2 separate regions of the Homo sapiens genome follow, and region 1 is linked to region 2. The links come from fine-mapping of genetic effects on gene expression. A gene starts in region 2. The other region holds a variant in brackets. All regions are shown on one strand. Distances are from middle to middle. Region 1 holds the start of CCL19 (C-C motif chemokine ligand 19). Region 2 holds the start of ARID3C (AT-rich interaction domain 3C).

What was found. PIP is the estimated chance that this variant, and not a neighbour inherited with it, causes the effect. A credible set is the group of variants that fine-mapping cannot tell apart.
Region 1: its variant is the best candidate, but not a certain one, in a credible set for the expression of ARID3C in cerebellar hemisphere (GTEx, PIP 0.70).

The regions. Positions count from the first base shown.
Region 1 is chr9:34,688,303-34,693,672 of GRCh38, forward strand. It overlaps CCL19 (C-C motif chemokine ligand 19), which reads right to left and starts at 2,974. Exons shown (of 4, transcript NM_006274.3): 1 at 2,789-2,974; 2 at 1,908-2,040; 3 at 1,628-1,721; 4 at 1,268-1,537. The coding sequence starts at 2,837. The coding sequence ends at 1,517. It also overlaps a transcript of PHF24 not described here. The variant C/T (reference allele first, on the strand shown) is at 2,512.
Region 2 is chr9:34,626,781-34,632,150 of GRCh38, forward strand. ARID3C (AT-rich interaction domain 3C) reads right to left here and starts at 2,286. Exons shown (of 8, transcript NM_001017363.4): 1 at 2,137-2,286; 2 at 917-1,306. The coding sequence starts at 1,234. RefSeq lists silencers at 2,095-2,194, 2,245-2,404.

The DNA of each region.
Region 1 (5,370 bases), 62 kb after region 2:
CTGGAGAGGCCCTTAGAGAACACTGTCTGGAGGCTAGCCTGCTTCCCCAGGAGACTTCTCAAGTACGAGGCACTCACTCTGTACAGAGAAGCCCTGTGGGATGCTCCAAGAGTCACACGGCTCTCATCTCCCAGAGCTGAGATTCCTTTCTGGTCTCATCTGGGGAGATGTCTCTGGTCTCAGTGTTGCCTTTGAGCCCTGGAGCCCATGTAGACTGTAGGGGTGGTGGTAGGGCTCCTCTATGTGGAATCTCCTGTGCTTCCCTGGCTACTCCTTCTTCCACCCCGTGGGCCTCTCTCCTGTCTCTGACCTCTGACTCCCAGGTCTGTCTGTCGGTGTCCCTGAGAGGCATGGCCCCAGGATTGCAAAGATGGGGCTGGACCTTGCTCAGTTTGGCTGAGAGAGGAAGGCTGGCCTGGAGGTCAGATTCTGTATGGACAGAATGAACAGATGGACCCTCAGCCCTGGCTGCTGAGCCTTTCCTCACATATTTATTCATTCTCTAAACAAATATTTATTGAGGGACTGCCTTGTGCCAAGCAGCATGCTGGACACCACAAAAACAGTGGAACCCAAAATAGATGTGATCCCAGTCCAAGAACATGGACAAATTTGGACAAACCAGCAACTATAAGTCAGGGTGATGAATGCTGTGAGGGGCCACTGCAGGAGGCTACCTAACCCAGCCTGGGGTCAGGGAAGGCTTCCTGGAGGAAGAGGCGTCTGGACCCAGATGGGAAGCCAGGTGGGCAGAGGAGAGAGAAGAGTGTGCCAGACCAAGGGAAGGGCATGGGTGGATGGGTATTTTCCCCCAGGCAGTAGAGCTGGGCCCTTTGCCCCACTCCACCTCCCCCAGCCGTGAGAGCTGGTTCCCCACAACTCCCTTCCCCCCAGTGACACTGGATTCCTTAGACACCTGGATGCTTGAACACCTGCCTTGGAGAGCAAAGAGTGGGAGGCATGAGACGCTGGCTCATTCAGGGAACTGACCCAAGCTTAGTGTCGCTGAACTATGGAAAGCAATGAGGCTGATCCTGAGAGCATCAGGTTGTTAAGTGGAGGTGAGCAAGGAGACCCCCTAGGCCACAGAAGAGAAAATAGATCCTGCCATTCCACCTCCCCCTTCCTATTCCTGTCCACCTGGCTAGACAGCAAACGGACAGCAGACAGATCTATGGGTGCCAGGTGCCTTTTTTTTTTTTTTTAAGGCTAGTTAAGCAGTAGGAGTGGAGAAAGAACAAAGAAATCTGTAACAGGTTGTGATCAATTAGTTGTAAACACCAGGCGGCTTTATTGGTAGCATTGCAATCTGGGGGTGGAGCAGCTTTACTCTGACCACACTCACCCTCTCGCTCACACTCACACTCACACACACCCCAGGCCCTGTCCTGGCTGGTCAGGTCTGGTGCAGAGGAGCTGGAAGCCTGGTCCTTCCTTCTGGTCCTCGGTTCCCCAGGTTAGGTAATAATTCACAATGCTTGACTCGGACTCCGGGCTCCCTCTGCACGGTCATAGGTTAACTGCTGCGGCGCTTCATCTAGAGGAGGAAGGAGAGGAAGGATCATGGGCTGGAATCTTAGACAGGAGCTCAGAGGGAGGAGACAGGGCCAGGGAGGGCCAGGCTTGCCTTGGCTGAGGTCCTCTGCAGTCTCTGGATGATGCGTTCTACCCAGGGCTGGTCTGGGGGTGCACAGAGCTGGCGGCCCCTCAGTGTGGTGAACCTGGGGTGAGAGGCCGGAGAGAATGGAGCCCCAGAATCCAGCATGCCTGGGGACCATGTCTGGGAACCTGTTTCAGGGATTTCCTTGAAGGGGTTGGGCTTGGCATGGAGAAGGGGAATAAGAAGGTGGGAGTCTCAACAGGGGCTAAAACGGGAGATGAGGCTAGACACCCTCCCCACAACTCACACTACAGCAGGCACCCTGCAGCCATCCTTGATGAGAAGGTAGTGGAAGTTCCTCACGATGTACCCAGGGATGGGTTTCTGGGTCACAGACAGGCAGCAGTCTTCAGCATCATTGGTGCCACTCAGAGTTGGGGCTGGGATGGGGAAAGAAGGTGACAGGACACAGGGACCCTTGAGGGTGGCATGGCCATGGCCCTAGCTCGGATTGAGGACACCTGTGTGTGTGTGTGTGTGTGTGTGTGTGTGTGTGTGTGTGTGTGTCTGGTGGGGTCGGGGAGGAGTTAGACCTGGTATTCAGCCATTATGCACCAATATGGCTCTGGCTCTACTGGTTGCTAAATATATTGTCATACTTCTAAACTGTTTTGTAAATAACCACTGCCCTGAGCCCCACAAATGACTTCCTGCTGCCCTGATCACCCCAACCTCTCTCCCAGGACAATCCAGCAAGTAAAGAGTTAATGCAGGTCACAGTGTGGGAGGGGCGTGGGGTAGGGTAGGCTGGTGTTAGGAGCCTTATTAATTGCTAAAATTTTTGAATATCAGCCTTGGCTTAGTGTCTGCCATTCTCCCTACCTTAAGCAAATCTCCTTCTGCCTGGGAAA[C/T]GGAGGCAGCAGGAAATAGAGCTTGCAGAGACAGTCACAGCCATAGGCCCCAGGATGTGCTAAAAGACACACCCGCATTGGGATTCAGGGGCACAGGGACACCCACACTTACAGGCACACATGCAGGGACCTGCCAGGCTCACCGAAATATACAGACCTAAGCATTTGCCTGAACTCACCATGTCCCTTACGTCCAGTGCCAAGCAATCTGAGATCTAGACATTACCCACTGCCAGCCCCCCACTGCCTCTGACCCTGACTCTCCCTTCAGCCTTACCTGGGGAAGTCCAGAGAACCAGCAGGCTGAGGGCCAGTAGCAGGGCCATGGAGGGTGAACAGAGGCAGGCCAACGGTGAATGTGTGAGCGCCAGCTGTCTGGGTGTGTGCAGGATCTGTGTGAGGCTGCAGGGCGACTGGGATGCAGGGGTGAAATGCAAGGTGTGAGTGATGTGAGGCTGGGAATGTGAGCCCTGCAGCTGACTCCTATTTATGGCCAGAGCTTCACTTTCTCTGCCTGAAATTCCCCTTCATGTCCCATTCTGTGATTCCCCTGTTGCCCCCCTCTTTCTGGCAGAATCGCACCCTGCCCCCCTTCTTCCCCCTGCGGTTGCCCTTTCCTTCTGCTTTCCTTGGCTCCTGCTCTGAGAACTTAAGTCTGCAGTCTGGCCCAGTAAAGGGGGCTGTGCACTGTTTCTCCAGAGAGAGGGATTGCCCTGTCATCCCATTGATGGCATTTGCATCATCAACCATGAAGCTGGGGTTCAGAAGTGATGGTCAAAGGTGGGGCCCACAGTGAGGAACTGTGCTCCCTTCCTTAGGTTTATCCCTTGTCCTCACTGGTGCTTCTTTCTTGGGCTGGTGGTGAAGAAGGCTCCCTGGCACCCTCAGGACAACCATGAGATCCTGGGGTGGCCTCCAAGGTCATCACTGTGCCTGCCCACTATGTGGGAACCAGTCCTTCCCTTGGGGCAAGCAGAGCTGAAAGGCCAGGTACCTTGGGAGGAGGCCCAGGACCCCCATCCCACATCTCAGGCCTCTGGGGCTCAGCAAACCCTCCCCTTCCTCTATTTACTGTTTTCCTATGTCCAACACCTGGGTCAAAGGAACAGCTGGAGGGAGACTGGCTTGGAATAGCCCCCTTCATTTTCCCCCTTTTCTCAGTCCTGGGAACCAAGAGGGGATTTCTAAGGAGAGGGGCTGGCCAGCTCATATTCAGACAAATCTTAAAATTTCAAGGAATCGGCCGATGGGGGAGGGGACAAGTGACTTCCCATCCTTATGAGAAAGGTCAGAAGAGAAGGCCTTGAAAGAGAAACTAAATGTGAAACGCCCAGTCACCCGTCGTCACCCAAACCCTAGACCCTCTTTTGGATGGAGAGAGGGAGGGGGAACATTTCCCTCTTAAATTTCTGACTTAGCTTCTTTCCATTCATTAATCATAATAATAGTAATGGTATTTTTGATTGTTTACTATGTGCTAGGCTCTATGTCAAGGACTTTACCACTATTACCTTGCTTAACTTTCCCAAAACAATACCATTGATGTAGTTTTTCTTATTTTCACATTATTATTCTTATTTTACACATAAGGAACATGAGGCTCAGAGCACAAAGCCACACAGCTAGTAAGTACTGGAGCATGATTTGGACCCAGGTGTGCTCTAGGGTTTGCAGTCTTTACCTCCACTCCACACCGCCTGTCTGCCACTTGGTCATGGCACAGCACGGGTAGTCACGGTGCAGAGGAGGGAGACTCTGCAGACAGAGCGCCTAGCTTGGGATTCAGATTCCACCACTTACTAACTGCGACAAGGTGAAAATTCTCCAGTTTCTGTGTCTTAGTGTCCTTATTTGTAAAATGGGAATGGTAGAAGATCTACTTCTTAGGATTAAGTGAGGAACCCTGAGTAAAGCCCTTAGCTTAGAGGCTGACGCACAATAAGCTCTGTTAGCCATTGTTCTTCTTTTGTCCTTTTTTTTTTTTTTTTTTTGAGACAGAGTCTCACTCTGTCACCCAGGCTGGAGTACAATGGCACGATCTTGGCTCAGAGCAACCTCCACCTCCTGGGCTCAAGGGATTCTCCTGCCTCAGCCTCCTGAGTAGCTGGGATTACAGGCACCCACCATCATGCCCGGCTAAATTTGGTATTTTTAGTAGAGGTGAGGTTTCACCTTGTTGGCTAGGCTGGTTTCGAACTCCTGGTTTCGAACTCCTGACTTCAAATGATCTGCTTGCCTCCGCTTCCCAAAGTGTTGGGATTACAGGCGTGAGCCACCGTGCCTGGCCTTCTATCCTTTTATTCAGGTATCTGTTCATTAATTCATCCATCCACCCCTCTTTCCATTGATCTATCCATTCTTCTGTCCATGATGGTTCTGGTTATTCTGTTTGCCCCAGCCTATCCATTCTCCACTCTTCACGGCCCTGCTCTGCTCCCTGGAAGGCTGACCTCTGCAGATAGCATTACTTAGGGTCACCTGCTTTCTGGCTTCTGTTTGGGGCTGGCCCATGGGAAGCAGCAACTGATCAGTGGTGGAAGGAGAGAGGGGTATTAATTCCCCAAATCCTTCATCTTGCTGCAGTTCTGGCAGTGAATAATTTCCCCTGTGGCAGTTGTTCTCAAAGAGTAGCCTTTGGGCAGCAGCAGCAGCATCACTTGGGAGCTTGTTAGAAACACGAATTCTTAGATTTTACTTCCCACTTACCACATCTGAGACTCTGAGGATGGGGTCCAGCAAACTGCATTTTCACATACCCTCCAAGTGACTCTGATATGTGCTAAAGTTTGAGATCCAAACGAGCCTCAGGGATACCATCAAATATACCTCATCACAGGAGTCTCAGGAGGAGAATAGAGA
Region 2 (5,370 bases):
AGTCTCTAGACCACATATCCAGAACAGAGCCCTGAGTAACACTCAGTTTTATACTAATGCCAGAGTACTAGTCACAGATCAACACTTTTGGAATATACCCAGACCAACACCCTACAAGTACCAGAATAGCACACCTGGAGACACAGCCCTGTGTAACACCTTCATAGTGACAGCCTTGAGTAGTGTCCTTAGAATAACACCCAGAAGGGTTCTCCAGGGAGAAAGAACCTCAGATTAAGGCCCTGTGAATGAAGTCTTGTCATTCTGAGTTGCGGAGGAGCCCTTTAGTCATACTGCGGCTGTAGTGGCCATCCCAGGCTGGGAACTATCATCCGTGGAACTCAGGCCAGGGAGATTTGCATGGGGCCAGGGTTAGGGAGGAGGTGACAGGAAAGAAAGGAAAGGTGTATCAGCCTGCCAAGTGAGTGATAACCTCCATTCTGCTTCCAAAGACAGAGGAAGCAACTGGGTCACCCCCACTGGTCACTGGAATATGACCTTGTGACTTGATGTGTGAGAAGGTAGGCAGGGTGGTGCTGGCATTGGAATCCCCAGCCCCTAGACTGCCTTCCCTACACCTGGCTGGGCATGGTGGCTCATCCCTGTAATCTCAGCACTTTGGGAAGCTGAGGTGGGAGGATTACCTGAAGTCAAGAGTTCGAGACCGGCCTGGGCAATACAAGAAAACCTTGTCTTTACAAAAGAAATTTTAAAAAATTAGCCAGGCATCTGTCTTTCCCTCCCTGTCACTATCCTCCAATCTTCTCTCTGTCTTTCTATAGGTCTCCGTGTCTCTGTGTCTCTTTTCATCTTGCAGAGGGTGGTGGGGGTGGGTGGGCTGCTAATCACCTGGCTGTGCTTTTGCCAGAAGAGAGAGATAGGGAAGAGGGCCGGACATTGAGGGCATAGGTCCTACCTGCTTGAATTGTTCCTCGTAGGTCCACTCGTGGGGATGGAGTCCAGGGGGCTGGCTAGAAGGCGAGCTGGGGCCCTGGGCCCCTGGACGGCTCTCCTCAGCTGCCTCCTCCTCTGCCCCGGCTTCCTCCCGCTTCTCCTCATCTTCTTCAGCATCTTCCTCTTCCTCAGCCCCAACATTCCCCAAGGCCCCCTCAGGGGCCTGTAGGGTCCGGTGGTCAGGCAGGGGAGGCTGCGGTGGCAGCAGCGGGCATGCAGGGGCCAATGGCCCCACCCCCTGGGCCAGCCGAGCTGCCTGCTGCTTCTGCAGGGCCTCCATGACAGCTTCCAGGCGCAGTCCCCCAGCTGAGGGGGTCCCTGGTACCAGGCGGGACCCCGAGGAAAGGGCCGCCTGTGGGGGAGGGAATTATGGGTGCTGGGCCCTACTGCCCCCAGAGCCCCCCAACACAGGGGGAGGTGGTCATGGATTCAGGGAAGTGCAGGGGTCACAAGGAAAGAGGCAGAAAGATGGCTTTCCCAGAGGTGAACAGAAACAGGACCAGACCCGGGGAATCAAATGGCCATTGACTGAGGACTGGAAGAGTGAGCAGATCAGAGAGGGTGACGGGGACCAAGAGACATCGGGAAATGGTGAAGGAAGGGAGAGAGAAAGAAAAGGAGAAGGGGGATGTCCGACAGAGACAATGACAGGGAGATGTGAAAATAGAGATGGAACAGGGTGACAAGGAGAGACAGAAGTGGGGTGACACAGAGACTGAGAGGGACCAAGATGGAGAGAGGCAGAGGTATCAGGCAGAGACAGGGTAGACAGACAGAGATGGAGAGAGATAGAATATTGGGTAGAGAGACAGGGAGGGTAAGAGAGGTAGAGGAGCAACAGATAAAAGACCTAAGTGACAGGTAGCTCAGAGACGGACAGAGACGGAGAGACAGAGGCGGAGATAGACAAATAGACAGGGGTTGAGATATAGGGAAAGACCAAGACAGCAGGAAACGGACAGAAGAGAGAGATTAGAAAGAGACAGTTAAATAGAGAGGGACCGACAGAGACAGGGACGGGAAAAACAGCCGGAGAGAGGGGCAGAGGACAGGGACCAAGGAGTCGCGGGGATGGAGGGCGGTGGGGCAGAGCCTGGGACGGGCACGGGACCGGACGGGCAGGAGGCGGCAGAGTCGCGACGCCCGGCTCCCTCGCTCCGGGCGCCCCGCGGCCGCACTCACCTGCCTGGCGTGGCCCGCTGCCCCTGGCGTCTCCACGGCGCTGCCTTTGCTCCGCCCGCCTCCCAGGCGGCCCTGGCCTCGGCTGGGTCCCGGCGGTGCGCTCCCGCCGCCCTGTGCTCCTCTGGCGGCTGTGCGCTCACTCGCCGCGCTGCTTGCGGCGGCCGCGGGGGCGGGACCCGAGCGGGGCAGGGCGGGCGGGGCGCATGGGGAGAGGCCCCTGTGGGATCTGCCGCTCTCAGCTCCCCAACAGGTGTCTCCCACCTTCTTTCCAGCCAGCTTCGGGGGCAGGGGGCGCTGGAAAGCTGCGGGGGAATCGTGCGAAAATGAGGGCTCTACCGCCACCGGACTCCGGACCAGAGCCCCGCCCAGCCTCACAAGTCGTGCCCCCGACACCCACACTCGGCACTGGGCTTCCACATACAAATAGCCGCATCCACACACCAACACACCTTGTCACAAGTTCAGGCGCATAGCTTCCCAGTCTCACACGTTCCGTGACATGGTCACCACAGTGCCAATGGCCTGGGCACGCTGTGATCAAGAGGGGAATCCCTCTGCAAGATGCTGGGGTGTGCGTGGAGGGTCTGGTCAGAATAGAAGCTTCTCCCTTTGCCTTGAGCACCCCTGCCCTGCCTACGTGCTGTCCCCCACTGCGGGCATGCTGCGGTTTGCACACATGAGTGCACATGGTGGTGGACCCACACCTATGCACTCACACACTCTCAGAGGTCTTTAAGCTGACTGCACACTCACCGCATGCAGATACACAGCCACACACAGTTTTTGTCTCTTTTGACATTCTATTATGGAAATTTTCTTTTCTTTTCTTTTTCTTTCTTTTCTTTTTTTTCTTTTTTGGAGACAGAGTCTCTGTCACCCAGGCTGGAGTGCAGTGGCGCGATCTGGGCTCACTGCAGCCTCCGCCTCCCAGGTTCAAGTGATTCTACTGCCTCAGCCTCCCGAATAGCTGGAATTAGCTGGGATTACAGGCGTCCACCACCAGACCCGGCTAATTTTTGTCTTTTTAGTAGAGATGGGGTTTCACCATTTTGGCTAGGCTGGTCTCGAACTCCTGACCTCAAGTGATCCACCCACCCTGGCCACCCACAGTGCTGGGATTACAGGCATGAGCTACCGTACCCAGCCTGTATTATGAAAATTTTGAAACATAGACAAGTGAATAGTATAATGAACCTCTGGTACTCATCATAGGTTTGTTTCAACAGTGACCGGCACTTCGCCCATGTTCACACACATTCTCCACCTATGTGTGCCTGACTGCCACATCTGTATCTCCAGACCCCCTCAGCCCACTGCTTTGCGCCCTCCCCCTAACTATTCCCAAGACGCTGAAATGCTGTTCCTTATTTGGGGGTTCTGAGTGGCAGGCCTCTCAGAATTTCTGCTCTGAACAGCCTGGACCCCACTCCTCCCGGGAATCCTCATACTTCCTATTTCTTCCTGTGCCCAAGGGGACCACTTACCAAACAGAGGGACACTGTGAGGTGATGCCAAGTGTGTAAGTGAACAGCAGGTGTCTGTAGGGGTGACACTTGGCATAGGTATGAAACTGTGGCACCAGAGACTGTCTTCTGACCTCACACCCCCAGAAGGCAGGAATCCAAACACGACCTTTGTCTCCTCCCTCCTCCCTTGTCCTCTCCCAATCAGTCCACTCCTCTCAGCCTCAGCTTGCTCTGGCTCAAACCACCGGCTCTTCTGACCATGGTGGGTCTGACCATGGTGGGTGCCTCCTCCCTGCTCTCCCTGCCTCCAGCCGCCACCCTTCTCTGCACCCTTCTGTGCCCAGCTTCTACTGCAGCACTAAGTCCTGGTTCTCTATGGCCCATTCCTGGCCACGCTGAGGCTCACCCCATTCATTCCTTTGGCTGCCCCAGTGTCCTCCACCTCAGATTTCAGACCTCTGAGCCCATCAGAACCCCCCAGCCTCCAGAAGCTCCAGTGATCCAATCACTGTCGGTACTGATGCCTCCTCCCCCATGGCTTTGTTTGGTGTGAGTATCCTGGGGCAGAGCCAAGCCTCCTCCTCTGCCCAACCCTCCCTGATGCTGGGAGGGGAGAATCAGTGAATGTGCCAGGCAGACAGACATGCCCTGGAAGTCTACTGGAAGACTGGAGAGCAGAGGGTAGCAATCCACAGAACCCTTGTGCCCTGCTTGCTCCCTTTTCCCCACCACAGCTTCCCCTGGCTGCTCAGAGGAGGTCCATGGACAAAGGTAGGTGGCCAGAGTCTTCCTAGAAAGGTAGGAATTGGCTTGGGGAAATTCCAGTTCTGAGTGTTTGGAGATCGCTTTGTAGGGTTTGGGTTGAATGGTAAGGGGCTGGGCAGTCACTCCCCCAGCTCCCAAATCAATCAAGCAAAGTTAATCCACTTTTGGGGTCTGGGCCAGGAGGGCTACAACTGGGAAGGGCTGAGGGGAAGGAATATGCTTGACTGGGACTTGGTTTATCTCTCTTCATCTGTGAAAAGGAAAGGCTGCCTCTCATACCCGCAGTCTGGTCTTATACCTCACAGAGACGGAGACAGACCTAGACCTTCAGAGACCCATGCTTCATTCATCCAACACATATTTATTATCTATTTTTTTTGCCAGGCACTGTTGGACACAGGAGCAAATAAGACAAAGTCCTTATTATAATGGTACAATTCTAAGTGGGGGAAATATACAGTGTGTCAGATAGTGGTAAGTACCATGGAGAAAAATGTAGCTGGGTTGGGGGGAACATAAAAGGGGGCATTAGTTACCTATTGCTGTGTAACAAATCACCCCATAATTTAGCAGCTTAAAACAAAAACATTTATTTTCTCACAATTCTGTGGGTCTGGATGGTTCTGACTCATTGTCCTCTAAGGTGTTGTAGTAAAAAGGTTGGCCAGGGATGCAGTCATCTGAAGGCTTGACTGGAACTGGAGGATCTACTTCCAAAATGGCTCACTTGCATGGCCCTTGGCAGGGGGCCTGTTCCCCCCGCAATATGGGCCTCTCCATAGGATTGCTTGTATGTCCTCTCAACATGGCAGTTGGTTTCCCCCAGAATGATCCAAGAGAGACTCTTTAGACAGCAATGCTTTTTATGGCCTAGTCCTAGAAGTCACACACTGTTATTTATGCCACATTATTTGTGAAAGTACATAATTAAGTCTAGTCCACTCAAGGGGAAGGAATTTAGGCTTCACCTCTTGAAGGACAGAGCATCAAAAATTTTGTGAAG